2 separate regions of the Homo sapiens genome follow, and region 2 is reported to be linked to region 1. The links are microRNA targets in miRTarBase. Many come from high-throughput screens and were not tested one by one. Region 1 holds a microRNA gene; the other region holds the end of a gene's coding sequence.

What was found. The annotated mature microRNA hsa-miR-155-5p reads UUAAUGCUAAUCGUGAUAGGGGUU and lies in region 1 at 2,413-2,436, opposite strand. An mRNA with a match to its seed (bases 2 to 7 or 8) in the 3' UTR can be bound and repressed. Matches are read on the target gene's strand: a 7mer-m8 pairs with bases 2 to 8, a 7mer-A1 pairs with bases 2 to 7 and ends in A, and an 8mer does both.
Region 2: miRTarBase lists ENTPD1 as a target of hsa-miR-155-5p. Seed matches in the 3' UTR shown: 7mer-m8 at 6,006-6,012 and 8mer at 2,291-2,298.

What each region holds. Positions count from the first base shown.
Region 1 is chr21:25,568,394-25,576,418 of GRCh38, reverse strand. MIR155 (microRNA 155) reads right to left here and starts at 2,439; the gene lies at 2,375-2,439. MIR155HG (MIR155 host gene) reads right to left here. Exons shown (of 3, transcript NR_001458.3): 2 at 6,498-6,582; 3 at 1,251-2,526. RefSeq lists enhancers at 173-222, 615-764 and silencers at 2,316-2,495, 7,155-7,204.
Region 2 is chr10:95,866,012-95,873,513 of GRCh38, reverse strand. ENTPD1 (ectonucleoside triphosphate diphosphohydrolase 1) reads right to left here. Exons shown (of 10, transcript NM_001776.6): 10 at 1-7,337. The coding sequence ends at 7,131. All of the region lies in intron 3 of ENTPD1-AS1 (ENTPD1 antisense RNA 1), which reads left to right. Among named protein-coding and RNA genes, the nearest start is that of CC2D2B, 38 kb to the left of the region's middle.

The DNA.
Region 1 (8,025 bases):
CTCCAAGAATTTTTGTAATGACTGGTCAGGAGGAATCCCTCTAAGATGAGGAGATAGGCAGTCAGAAGCCTAGGTGGGCTGGGCGTGAGAGAAAACCCAGGAACCCTGGTTCTTTGGGTCGTCACCACGGGATTGATTATAGTTAGTTTGGAGCTAGAGTGTCTTTGGGGAGATCTGCTATGGTAGATCATTTGATTTAAATGACTGAAATGTAAAAGTTTGAAAGTTTGTGTTTAACACTTAATGCATAATAGACATTGTGCTTTTCACATGCATGATTTCATTTAAGCCTACATCTTATGAAATATGAAATATATTCATCATTTTATTGATGAAGAAATTGAGGCTTAGAGGAAGATTAAGTAACTTTCCAAAGCTTCATGTGAGTGTACCCAAATGCTCTTCAAATAAGGCATTTCCCAGCACAGCTTTTCTTTAAGTGCCTTTGTAATGTTTATAGCTTTTTATTGTAACAGCAGGAAGGTTATACTACAATAGTTTATTCCAGTCCTAATGTTCTATGACTTTGTGTCTTTAGGCAGCAAGCAGGATTTTGAAGAACTGGGACTCAAAGCAAGGAGTCCTCTTGTAGATATACAGTGGCAGATAAAATGAATTGAACAGACACTTTTTTTTTTTTTTGAGATGGAGTCTCACTCTGTCACCCAGGCTGGAGGGCAGTGGCACGATCTTCGTTCACTGTGAACTCCACCTCCTGGGTTCAAGTGATTCTTCTGCCCCAGCCTCCTGAGTATCTGGGATTACAGGCACGCACCACCATGCCTAGCTAATTTTTGTATTTTTAGTAGAGACGAGGTTTCACTATGTTGGCCAGGGTAGTGTAGAACTCCTGACCTCAAGTGAACCACCCGCCTTGGCCTCCCAAAGTGTTGGAATTATAGGCGTGAGCCACTGTGCCTGGCCTGAAGAAACACTCTTGAATGTGTTCTACCTACATGGGAGCTCCGTGGAGCCACAAGCTCATTCCAGGTGTTAGGAGAAGAAATTTGTGTTGGCAGCACATACAACTTGAACAGAAAGTGAGGAGAAGAAATTTGTCTTGGCAGCACATACAACTTGAACAGAAAGTGGGGCAAAGCCAAATGGGTATTCTTACATGAGAATACTGTGTCCTAGGAGTCAGGAATGTTCCCTTTAGTGTCCTCATAATTTTCTTCCATTGTCTTTTTTTGGCAGATAGCTTCTGGAATTATAATTTGTACTTTGCAAAAGAAAATGGGCCATAAAAATTATTTTAAATCAACTAAAGACTCATGAGATTTATTTGGTTACAGTGAATAACCTGGACAAAATGTTGAGAAGAGTTGTTAAAACAAGTTTACATTAAATATACTAACAATTACGTTTGGTTACATATTTGTAAGTGATGGTTATTTAGAAAAACTGCATAGAAATCCAAACCTTAAATATTCTGCAAATCAAATCATTAGCTTTTCTCTTCTCTAATAAAGTAGGGTGACTAGTTCTTGGATTAATCTAACTATAACATTAATGTAGCACTTGATTATCTTATGGAATAATTCTCTATCTCATCTAAGCCTCACAACAACCTTGTAAAGTATTATCCCCATATGGAGGAAGAAACAGGCTTAGAAGTGGAAAGGTAGATTCTCTGCTCGCACAACCGTATTATGTGGCTAAGCTATTGAACTTGAACCTAGATTTGGGACTTCATTTCAAATATGAAATTTTTTGATTAAATCTTTTTATCTTGTATGGAAAAAATATCTCATTAGCTGTCAGATGTTATTTACCCTGCTAACTGTTAAAAATATTTCATTAAAAAAATTCAGCTTCATAGCCTTTCAGTTTCCCTTTAAGAGTCAAATAAAAGTATTAATTTTAAACTGAAGTTGCCTGAACAGAAAATCGTTACCTGGGGGAAAGTACCAGTTTCTAAATCTTTTAAAAAACGTTGCCAGACAATCCATGATATAACTGGAGGTTAGTAGTCCTTCTAATTTTTAACTACAAAAATATTATAGAAATTTGTGTTTAGCCCACATTTCTAACAGTTGAATCAAAGGTGTTTATGAACATTATAATGAACAAGCCAAAACCTGCAATTAAGAATGACATGAATATATTTTCTGTTAATGATAAAAACAAACATGGGCTTGACATTTAAATGAAAATGTTTGCATTTAGGATACTACTGATAAATCTTTTAAATAACCTTACTTTCAAAACTTAGTTTAAGGTTGAACATCCCAGTGACCAGATTATGATTAACAGATTGAAAAATGATAAAGCCTGAAGTCTAAGTTTATCCAGCAGGGTGACTCATGCTTCTTTGTCATCCTCCCACGGCAGCAATTTGTTCCATGTGAATGCTAGTAACAGGCATCATACACTGTTAATGCTAATATGTAGGAGTCAGTTGGAGGCAAAAACCCCTATCACGATTAGCATTAACAGCATACAGCCTACAGCAAGCCTTCAGCACTCAGAGGATGAGGCATAAAGAATTTAAACCACAGATTTCCCCTTCCTGGTTTGTGCCACCTGCAAGAGAGAAAGAAATGTTTGTGTATGCACATGCGGTTATAAAGCTGGAGTGACAGCATATAGTAAATCTGAAAGGAAAATAGTCCATTTTCTGTTGAAAGGAAGGAGCTCATTAAATCCTTGGAAGTAATTTTTTGAAAGTGGTAGAGAAATTGGCAATTAAAAGATGACATTGTTACCTTTAGGCATATTTGAAGACTTTGAAAATTATGTTTTAAATTCTATTCTCTAGTTTTGAATCGGGTACACATATGTATCATCTTCTTTAAATAAAAAACAAAAACCGCTCTTCGGAGTTTTCAAATGCCAAAATGCAAAGAGGAAAGCTTGCATTCTGACACAGTACAGTTTTTTTTTTTTCTGATTTGTACTTCATCTAGGAGCTAGACAATTAAAGGCCCAAATGTTCAAAATAGTCCTTTATGATTTATGAAAATTAAAACCCAATTAACCTGTTTTATAAGGGTAGGGTTCAGGCTGAATTTTTCTTTCTGTAATACATAGTTGAAGTTTTACCTTTATTCTTTCAGGAAATGTGATACAAGCAATGGAGGTTTGCCTACAAACGAATCTATCTGAAAATGTCCCCGTCTACTATTTAGAGATTCCTTTGGGGAAAGCACTACCCAGTGGCTTTGGTTTTGACTACATAAAGGAAGTATGACTTAAAGAGTCCTCTGTGTTTCAAACTACTTGTCTTAGGCAGAGGGTTGATTAAAAAAAAGAACAAGATGAATTTGCTACTTCCTTTTAGAGTCTGATTTTACTCTCTCAGATAAAGTGACATTTCTCCCACAGGTTTCTGATTTCAGTGTTACTATAACAGAACCTAGAAGTTAGAGTATCATTCAAGTATGTGGTCTCCTGCAGTACAAGAGGGGAATCACCTTTTCTTTTATTTAATAATGAAACCAGCTAGATATAAAAATGTGACTAAGTTCAAAAGAAACGTATGAAGTAAAAAATTCCCCAGTGAATATATTTTGACAGGGCAGAATATCGTGGTTTGGAAATTTCCAAACCAAGGAAATATATTATTCTTACTGATAGTATTTTTTTTTAAACTTTACTGTTTTCTGAGATGAATTAGTTGATGATGAAAAAATTTGGGTTAAATGATGTCACTTCAGGAATTCAATTCATTTTACAGAATTTCAGTCAATAAAGATTGTAAAAACAAGGACTTTTTTTCCCCCTTACAGGGTCCTGGACACAGTAAATGCTCAATAAATACATATTAATAATGTAGTGTTAGTGCCACCCCAGCCAATATAACTCGCCCTTTTCTTAAAAGATGTGTTTAATTTGTATTGAAGGTAAATTGCTGGCATACTATTCTACCCATAAATTTTATTCCTGTTCTTTAAAGATAACATATGAGCACAGGTATTAAAATAAATATATTTAGTATACTAATTAGCTTTTTCCCTCTTTTTAAATATACATACGAATTGCCTGATTAGAGCACTCAGAAAAGTGACAGTGTTTTTGATAATGTGTTATATATATTAAAAATTCTAATAGCTTTTTTTATTTGTTCAAACTCTAAATGTATATTGAAATAAAACATGTCACACAGGTCCCCTTTTGTTCTCAAACACAACCTTGTCATACAGGCATGATGAATTCCGAACACTGCAGAGAAATGAGAAGTTTGTCTAAATATACTATAGAACCTTAGGTCATATTTAAAACACAATGATAGATGAAAAACATTAATGAACAGAAGAAAGGAGAAATATCCCAGAAAAAAAAAAAAATATATATATATATATATATATTCTACAATTTAAAAATAGTAGACTTTTAAGGACATTAGAATGACTAGAAGGTCATTCATTCATCAGTGTGGAGTCTATGTCCACTTCCAGTGTTTTTGACTGGGCTAAGCAACCAACAACAGAATTGCTATATGCCTGAGTGGGAATTAGTGGTCATAGACAACAAAGGCCAGTCTATTAGCCAAGGCACTGGGCAGAGGGTGCTTTCATGAGGTAATAAGAAATAAAGTAGTTCTTTCTGGAATCGGTGTGGCCACCAGCTGGTAAAGTGGCAGGGGAAGAATTATACACAATTATAGGCCTGACAATCAGTAGTGACAGTGCTAACCAAGTAAGAATGTGACAAGCATAATGTTTAATGTATAGCAATGCAAGAGTAATTTATATGAATTATATATTAGAAATTAGACTGGGGTCTTTGACTAGGTAGTTCTGCAGATATACTTCCAGTCCCCTCACTCCACAATACTTCTTAGGCCTACCACATGAAATATCCATTGTCAGTATAAGTTTTACTGTGTAGCATAGGTTCCAAGTTAAATGTTCTTAACAAATTACTACACACTGTCTGAGTATCAAAATCATTCCTTCTCACAGTAGGTAAAAATCTACCAAGAGGAAGCACTATGTATACTAGATTAATGATAACACCAAGGATCTTTCATTATATGACAGGCAATTCTTCCTCTGGTGCTAAGAATGAAGCTGAAGGTGGCACTTTGGGAAATTTTTCCTTAAATTATGCTTTCCTGAAGGACAATTTTTTTGGGGGGGGTGGAGTGTGAGCATAAGATTTAAGAATATCTGGCTGGGTGTGGTGTCTCATGCCTGTAATCCTAGCATTTTGGGAGGCCGAGGTGGGCGGATCATGAGGTCAGGAGTTTGAGACCAGCGTGACCAACATGGTAAAACCCCGTCTCTACTAAAAATACAAAAAAATTAGCTAGGCGTGGTGGCGCACGCCTATAATCCCAGCTACTCAGGAGGCTGAGGCAGGAGGATCACTTGAACCTGGGAGGCAGAAGGTAGTAGTGAGCCGAGATTGTGCCACTGCACTCCAGCCTGGGCAACAGAGCAAGACTCTGTCTCCAAAGAAAAAAAAAGATTTCAGAATATCCTTTTATTCTTACCTTGTTGATTTGCCAGGAAAGACGTTATCAAAACTATATATTCAGAGCATAATATGTCCTAAGTTTGTCATTAAAGTTCTGGTTTTCCTTCAAAAATTTTTTATTGTGGTGAAATATGTAATGTAAACATAATGTAAGTTTAACATCTTCACCATTTTTAAGTGTACAGGTCCGCTATATTAAACACTTAGTCATAATGTTCTACAACTATCATTATCATCCATCTCCATAACTCTTTATCTTGTAAGGATCTCATTTTATGTCTAAATCATAGGTTATATTCTTCTACAATTATATATATTTCTATATTGCTGCTTATTCTCAGCACCAACCATTTAATATTTGCATACCAAAGGAACTGCACACCATAAAGTTTTCTTTAAAAAAAGTTACAGTGGTCGAATTTCATAACCAAAGCGATTGTGGGATAGCTCTAATTTTATTTACCTTGAAATATACAAATAATTTAAAACTATTAATTTGTTGTTACAAATCAACTGTACATCTATTTTTACTGAAAGTCATCTTATATTGATGTAGCAATACAAATTCTAGGTCCAAAGCCATTTTAGTAGGTGAAATGGAATGTAATTATGTTGTTGAAAATTAAAGTGATTTAGTTTAGGTAACTTTCTCTGCATATTTTCCCACTTTAACATTTATGTGTACCAATCAAAAACATAATCATTAAGATGGAATAATGTTGATTCCTATTTGGATCAGTTTGCTAAAAGCAATTAGCATATACTTGTATATGTGGAAACAGTATCTGCCTTTTCTATCAGAATTTATTCTGATTCTCTATATTCTGCCGCTGCAGTTTTGGTTTACATCATGGAAGTAAGCAGTGATTAATGCAAGTGTATAAAAATCAGGATTCTGTGAAACTTTGGACTTGTCATAATCTTTAGAATAACAACGATTTCTTGGTTACCTTTTGAGGTAGAATCAAAAGTTGAAAGCGGCTGCCAACTTGGTGCCCCAATGACCTGCCTTTATAAAAACTGCATCTGTCAGCGTGTTTCCCTTCCCTTTTACTTAAGATAGAATTCCTTACCATTAGAGCCATCTCCATTGGGTGGGAGAGCCAAGGTGACAGGTAAGGTCTCTGGTAGGTTGTTCTTGAAATGCAGACAAGTTATCTGGGGAAAAAGGGTTGGGGTTGAAGTTGACACATCACCTTAGATGTGTTTATTAGGTTAGTTAGTCATCTTTGAAAGCAGAGGTGAAGGGCTGAGGAGAGAGGACCCGGGATAGGTGGATTTTAATGGGAATAAAGAGTAATTTAGAGGAAAGATAAGGATGTACCCCAAATAGTTTGATAGCTCAATAGTTTTTTATTTATAATTTAAGCTCACACTTTTCATGTCCAGCATAAAGCAGCAACAAATTAAGTATTTAGACTATCATCTGAGTTTTAGTTCTCTGAGTTTCAACCTCTCTACATGCTGTAAAATGTCATATAAAGTGTTTAATTTCTCAGAAATTCTTCAGGAAGACTTGCAATGTTCTCTGACAAAAAGAAAATCCAAATGACTGCCTTTCTAAAGTGTATTCATTTGTGTAAAGTTTATCACATATTTTCTGTAGAATATGATTCTGTGTTACATCTCAATAACTGACATTAAAGATGAGTCAACTTCTCTGCTACCAGGGAATGAGGTAAAGAGTATTATGTTTCCTCTTGACTTCACATGAGTTCCATCATTAACAAGGGATTGATGGTGTGACTTACTACTGATTGAGATGGTGGCCAACTGGCGTCACATCTTCTGAAGTACACAAACTCATCTTTAAAGGTAAAAATGGATTGTTCTGTAGGAATAACTTATATCCTGAAATCTTGGTGAATGATAAGATTACCACTTTTCAGATCATTAACTTTACATATAAGAAAAATTCCCTGAGTAAGCCATTGCTGGGGGAAAAATTATAAACTTTTCATGTCATGATACTTTATTTATTTCCATAAAAACTTAACATCACTTCTTGATATTTTCTAATTGAGAGCTCTTTATTGAAAAATAGCAACTTTCTAAATTAAGAGCTCCTTATTGAAAATAGCAGTTTGTGCACACAATAGCATAACATTCTTTTCTGTATTTTGAGAATTAAGAAAATAAATGTTTTTAAAGATATATGCCAATAGTGATATTTAACACATAAAGGTGTGATGTATTTTTGAAGTGTCTTAGAAGAAAGCCAATGTGGATATTGCAGGGTCACTGTGGAAATGTGTATCAGTGACCGTTTAGTTGTAAATGCACAAAAGAGAAAGAATGTCAGCCTTAGAGGATTATCCTGCTTTTCCCAATTTTAGAACCAGGAAGTTTTTACTGAAATGGCTTTGTGGAACTTACTTACAAGCTAAGTAACCTTCCCAGTAGTTTTATTATGGACAGTAATTAGTGCTTTCGCTTTTCTGATGAAGATGTGTAAAAAAAAACAGGTTAGGAATTTCCTCTCCCCCACCAGACTCATTCTGTGGAATAAGCAGAAGCAGGACGACAGCCAGCTGGAGTCTGACTGCAGGGACTCGCTTCCTCAACACCCTGACCTCACACTGGCTCAGCGGAAGGTCTGAA
Region 2 (7,502 bases), not on the chromosome of region 1:
TGAGAGCATGGAGGTAATACATCTAATACACTGAAGACCAGGGCAAGAGAGCTGGAAGAAATCCCTCTTAAGCACTCCAGGCCTTCACTGAGTATGAGGTGCTGGTCTCCAAAGGCAGAGGGCAAGGCAAGGCAGAGAGGGATCTCCTGGGGCACAGACAACTGACAAAAGAAACACTTGGATTGTTGTATAAGAGGAGTGAGCTTTGTAAATACCACGTTAGCTGGCCTGCTGTGGAACAGAATGCCTGTGAATGACAGTAGTCAGGTAGTGGATGAACACTGATCTGAGAGCCTGTAAAAGAAACTCTTTGGAATGATAATGTCATCTAGACCTTTGATACGCAAAGTGTGATTCCTGGACAGATGTATTGGCTTTACCTGGCAGCTTGTTGGAAATGTAAAACCTCAGGCCTCACCCCAGACCTACTGAATTATTTATATTAATTAAAATTAAATAATTTTTATTTCAACAAAATCCCTGGGTAATTTGTATGTACATTAAATTTTGAGATGCATGATCTTTTAAGGTTCATTCTAATCCTTAAAATTCTGTTTTAATAATGTGTACAATGAAGTGCTGCATGGCAAACTACACAGAAACTAAAGGCATGTTCCAAAAAGGAAAAGTTCCATGTGGCTAGGGGAATAAAAGCTTCATCAGGGAACCAGGAGTTGGGCTGGTTCTTAAAACCTGGAGAAAGAAGATGGTTACATCAAGAGATAAATAGAGTGAAGCAGAACTAGTGGTGCGGACCAGCTCGCCAGCAACAGAAGGGTTTGTAGTCGGCCTGGCAGTGGACAGGGAGGTTGGCTAGAACTATTACCTTAGGTCCGTGATAATATCCCTGAATCCAACTTTTCAGAAAGAAATAGGTAACATATTTTTCACCAGGAAGCTTCACCCAGACACTGAACAGAATGGTCTCAGTGCACTAATGGAGGCTCAGTTAAAGGGTTGTGGTAGCACAAGGAAGAGACATTCTGACTTGGAAATTTGGAGAAGGCTTCACAAATGAAGGGGCATTTGAAATGAGCTTTGAAGGTGCAAGAGTATTCCAAGTTGAGAAGACAACCTGAGTGGTGTTGGGTGAACAGTCATTCTACCTGGCTGTAGTGTAGTATAGTGTAGTGTAGTGTAGGAAACATCAGAGGAGTGGAGTGGGATATGAGCCTGGAGAGAGCTGGCGGCCATGGATCATTGAAAGCCTTGAATGTCTGATGGGGAGGTTGACTTTATTTTGTAGGCAATGGAAAGCCACCAGTGGTTTTAGTTGAGCAGCAATGAAATTAAGCCTGTGCTTTGCAAAGATTAATCTAGCAGCAACAGATTGGAAGCAACACCACCATTCCTGGTATCAGTCCAGGTAAAATATATTACAGCTCTTTACTGGAGCAATAACAGTAATATTAGAAGGAGAAATAAAAAAGAAAAATATTGCACAGGCAGAATGGGGAGGTCCCAGTGATGGAGCTGATCTTGGTTCATTGAGGCAGGGGTGGCATTAATCATGTAAAACACAGGAGGAGGAACTGGGTTAGGAGTAATGGTAGAGTTCAGTTTAGGTAATTGCAAATACACACTATTCCCTGACTAGCTCCCAAGACTTTTTCTTCCCTCTCTTCTTAGAACTTCATTAGAAGAGGTGATGTTATTTCTTAGATGAGAGTATCTTACTTACCATTGACTAATACATGTTCTCTGATGAACTTTGCTATTCAACATACATGCAAAGGGGTTATAAAAACAAGTCAACTCTAGTGCTGATGAGGGTGATCATCATCACTGATCATGGTGTCAGTTGATTATAGTGTCAATTTATAACTTAATTTATGTAAAATAGAGCAATGCAAAAGACATAGCAATCTTCACTTCAAATGAAGAGTCTTGAATGCCACTTTTCTAAAGAGAAGGCTCATGGAGGCACCTCCTCACTATTGAAAAATCCATTATACCTGTGATAAAACTGATTGTGTTCAGTTGTATTAGATTTGTATGCAAATAAAAAGTTGGGTAATTAGCTATACATTGTCCTAAACGTATAAAATAAGAAAAATACATAGATGTATGGTTTCCTAGGACATCTACCAGTTTAGAATGCGAGGCTAATGTGGGAGCTGCCACAGCATCCTGATTAAGGCTATGGAAAGAAGTTGCAGACTGATGATGTCTTAGAAGTAATGACATTTTTTAAAGATAATATTTCTTTGGTGAGATAAACAGATTATATTTTACAGTAAACACATTTTATATTTCAGTTAATAAGACATTGTATATTAAATAATCGCATTTAATGCTTTACTTTTTTCCTGTGTTAAAATTAATCACTCATGGCCTTGGCCATATGACTTTGCCATTCCTCCCACTGTTTATCTGACTTGTTTATATTTTATTGAGCTTGCTCATATGACTTACAATAGCCTGTGACAGAAGTGACAGGAGACCCCATCCTGACCAAGACCTTAAGAGGCATCCTAGTTTCCTCTCACTTTCACGAGCCTCTGCGGGGTTCATCATGAGAACATATCCCTAGAAACCACTGGACAAGGAGAACAAGAGGTATATGGAATAGGTCTGATCCACCCTTACCACCTGAAGTAGAGCTGCCCAGCTGGCTTGCAGACTCACAAACATGAAAATCAATGTTTACTGCAGCAATTCATGAAACTTTGAGGCTGTTATAAAAAGTAAAGGACCTAATACAAATGGAAAGAAACATGGTTAGTAAGCAAAGCTAGTTATGAGCAGCTGTCATGTTCTAACAGTTGGAATTTGAATCAGAGCAACTATTGGTATTTGAATCAGAGAGGGGCCAGACCAGTTTGGGTGAAACTCAGTTCATCTTTTAAACTGACAATAAAGGGAATATATTTTCATAGTAATTTTATCATTATGTGGCAAACTTTGTTCTGTGAGCTATTAAAATATTCATCTTGGCCAGGTGCAGTGGCTTACGCCTGTAATCTCAACACTTTGGGAGGCCAAGGCAGGAGGATTGCTTGAGGGCAGGAGTTCGAGACCAGCCTGGACAACATAGGAAAACCCTGTCTCTACAGAAAAAAAAATAGCTAGACATGGTGGTGCACACCTGTAGTCCTAGCTACTTAGGTGCACACCTGTAGCCTTGCTTGAGCTTGGGAGGTCGAGGCTGCAGTGAGCCATGATCATGCCACTGCATTCCAGCCTGGGCAACAGAGCAAGACTAGCTCCAAAAAAAAAATCATCTTTATTTTAATATTCAAATTTACATTTTGAGTATGGAATGTAAGCATCAAGAATTAATCTTTAAATCCAGATGAAACTTTCCCAAGGTCTCTTGTCATGCATCTTGGACTGAATAACAGGCATCCCTGCCTTCACATCTTCATGGGAAGGCAACAAAACCTGAGGAATACAACCTAGGATCTCAAAAGCTTTTTTAGGAATAATGTCATATATAATAAATAATAGCAAGAATGTTACAGCATCTATAGCTCTTTAAACTACCTCCCAAGGGAAAGACAATGAGGGCTTAGTTCCTGTGTCTTTTAAACTTTAACTTTACGTGTATTTTTTTGGACATGTGCTGTCCAGTATGGTAGCTACAAGCCACATGTGAGGTGAACACACAGCTAGTCCTAATTAAGATGTGCTGTAAATGTAATAGACACAAAATATTTTGAAAATTTAGTATGAGAAAAATATTAACAATTTTTATATTGATTCCTTGATAGTATTTTGGATTTAGTTGCTTTCTGAAAACTCTCCTGTGTTACCCAGTTTGAGTGTACCATACCATCCATCTCTTGCAGGGACCTTGACTGATACAACATTAAAATGAAGTGTAATTTTAAAAAATTTTATTTACATATTTCTTATTAAGAATTGGATGAATTGAAACTTCTTTATTTTCTTTCTCTTTCTTGTCACACAGAAAGCCTGATTAAGTAGCATTATTCTTTTGTCTACAGAAGTAACCACTTCTGGCCAGGCATGGTGGCTCACTCCTGTAATCCCAGCACTTTGGGAGCCCGAGGCAATAGGATCACCTGAGATTGGGAGTTGGAGACCAGCCTGGCCAACATGGTGAAACCCTGTCTTTACTAAAAATACAAAAATTAGCCGGGTGTGGTGGTGGGCACCTGCAATCCCAGCTACTCGGGAGGCTGAGGCAGGAGAATTGCTTGAACCCAGGAGGCGGAGGTTGCAGTGAGCCGAGATAGCACCACTGCACTCCAGCCTGGGCAATGGAGTGAGACTCTCTCTCAAAAAAAAAAAAAAAAAAAAAAAAAAGTAATGACTTCTGCTGATCTTTTTTCTCCCCTATAGGTTCATAGAAAAAAAACTCCCACCTTATAAAGGAATCTTTAAAAGGTTCCTCATAAAGGAACAGGGTTAGCAGAACCAAGTTTTGAGTCCTGGGTGAAAATCCAGGGGAGAATGGTAATCAGTGATAACCAATGGCCAATCCAATATTAAAATTAGTTAACAGTGACCAATCTTATTTCACCTACCCCACCCAGAGTGGCCCAAAGCAGATTGCTGGATCTGCCTCTAAACCAACCTTCCTGCCAAAATAATTGGGGTTAGGTTGTGTCTGCTGATTGTCTCCATAATTTGAGATTTTAACAAGTTGAGTTTGGCTCCCAAATACCTTAAAGGATTTTTTTTTTGGCATCTCTGGGGAGGGGGAGATTGGACGTAGGCAACCAAACAGGAATGGAATAAGAAAAGATTTGTGTTCTCTGAAGGAGACTTGTGAAGTCTAATTCCAACTTGCTGAGGGAAAGTGTTTAGAAAAGAAAAAGCAATAGGCTTCAACCAGAAGACATGAGTTGGAGTATCTGCTCTGCCATGTAGTAGTTTGTGTGATCCTCATTTGTAAAATGGAAATACTATTTACACCCTTATGGGTTGTTGTGAGGGTCAGAATAGATTGTGTGCATGACAGTGCTTTGTATACGCAGACAGAAGGAAAAAAGCGGCTGTTATTGGCTCAACTTATTTGACCTTTATTTTCATCATCATCGGCCACTATTTGATGTCAATCTACTATGCTGTGAGCAAACATTAAAATTAGGAAGCCAGGGGTATGGGAACCACTGATTAGCATCATATGCCAGATGTGCTTCCATCCAAAGCACATGAACAGAATGATATTAAATTACAAGCCTATCAGGAACAGACCAGCTTTCTGCCTCCCTTTCTATGAATACCAAGTCCCATGAACCTTGTATTCATGTGGAGTTTTAAGTGCATGCTTGGAAGTTATGAGGAGACAGCCTGGTATGTTCGGGAAAGAAAATAAAGGTTAGGTACATGGTAGGCTTTGGCTCAGCCATTTGGGCAAATGACTTAACCTCTCTGAACCTCAGTTTCTGTTTCTATGAAGTGGGAATTGTAATACCTACCTTCTTCAGATTGTTGTGAGGATTAAATGAGAAGATGAATGTAATACCCTTGAGCACACAGCGTGGTACACCACAAATGCTCAACCAACAGCAGCGATGACAGTATAGGCAACTACCACAAGAAAGAATTTGAACATGTCCCAATTCGAATTTTGATTCCTAATCAAGATCTAGTGAATTTAACCTAAGTAGCAGAAAAGAAGATTAAGAGTTCCTTTCCACAGCTTTATTAAGTTTTTATATTCACCTGGATGTTGTCAAAAGTGACTTGATCATTCAAGAGATAGGGGACATTTGGCTTCCGGTTTGTGTGAGAGCTTTTCTTTCCCCATCAGCTCAACAGTCAGTCCCCAGATCTAGAGATGGAGAGCTTGGGACAAGGTCAGAATGAAACATCACCAGTCAATCCTGCTCAACAGGTAACTCTTGCAGCAATCCTTAAGGAAAGGGGTGCAGGGTCTCTTCATGTTTCCATGGTAAGGTCTATAGCTGCTGCTTCATGGAATAAGCAAACAAAGCCCATGTTGTGTGACGGGTGGCAACACTTTCAGACTTGGATCCTGCACATTCTGATGTGTAAATTCCACGATAGGGCAAAAGCATGCCACTCCACACTAATGCTGCCCTCTCACTAAATTAAACCTTGGAAAAATAAGATGTGGCTTGGCTTTAAAACTCAGTGAACTATCTTTATGGTACAGTTGGTTTCCATAGCTGTAAACACAAAAGATCTATGGTTTCTGCCTACCCAGGATAGTCTTGTCTCTAGACAATGTATTGATGATGCAAATGTTCTGGAACTAAATAGTGGTGATGGTGGCACAACACTGTGAATGTACTAAATGTCACTGATTTGTACGTATTTAATATGAATTAAATGTTAAAATGGTGAATTATATTTATGTATATTTTACCATAATAAAAATATGCATTGGAAGATGCATTTTTTGTGACCCTGAGTTGTAACTGTATTTTTATTTGTGACATGTATATACCACCTACCTCATAGTAAGCCCTGATGTTTGAATGCATATATTTACATCTGCTTTTTGCAAATCTCAGGTCTGAGTGTTCCACTCTGTAGCATTTGGGTATCACCTAGGAATATGTGATTTATTGACATACCTGCTTTGGGTGGGATTGAGAACTGTATTGACTGCATGAGCACATATATTTCCTTATAAAACTCTTTGGCTTTAGCACATATTTGCCTACTGTAGAAAATTCTCCTACCCACAGAGCAGGCTGGGAATGGAATGTGTGTCTGCCTTCTCCAAAGGCATCATATGGCTTTCTTAATGGATGGCAAACAGGAGAGAGAAAGGGGTTCTTAAAGAGTACAACTGAACCAGTTCCTGAGATTCTTCTTTCAGCCAGCTCAGCCTCCTATCACAGGACTCAAGACTCTCAGTTCTTCTAGACAAAGTCAATATTGTTCTTTTATAAAGCAAAGATTATGAAAGGTGTCAGGTCTTTAAAACCTATACAAGCACAAAGTACAAAGGAGAAAGGTGTAGCTGGGAAAAACTCATGAAAGAGACAGTATCTGCCGAAGTCCTTGAGGCAAAGGATATTGAATACCTCCAAAAGAAAGGCTTCAGTAAAAGCCAAGGAAGCTTCACACTCGTCAAGACTGGCCCTGGCAGACAGGGAAGGATGGCCTTGAACACTGCGATGGAGGAAAATGCTCCCTGGACGATTTTTTTCCTCACTCCAGCCAGCATATTTCAGCTGCTTTTGCTATACCATATCTTTCCAGAAATATGAAGGCTTGTGAAAGATAAGCAAGCCTATGATGGCCACTGTGAAAAGGACCAGGGAGAATAGAACCATGAGGAAGACATAGGTGGAGTGGGAGAGAGGTGTGGACAATGGTTGCTCAGCTGGGATCATGTTGGTCAGGTTCAGCATGTAGCCCAAAGTCCAGCCGGCGTCGCTGCCCTGGATCTGCAAACAGTGGGGAAAGTCTGTTTGTGGTTGGAGGAGTTAGAAGAGTTATCACCTAGGGCTTAGAATTATTGGATCATGCATTGGAAGAGTTCAAACAATATAAATCACTGGCTGGGCACAGTGGCTCATGCCTGTAATCTCAGCACTTTGGGAGGCCAAGGA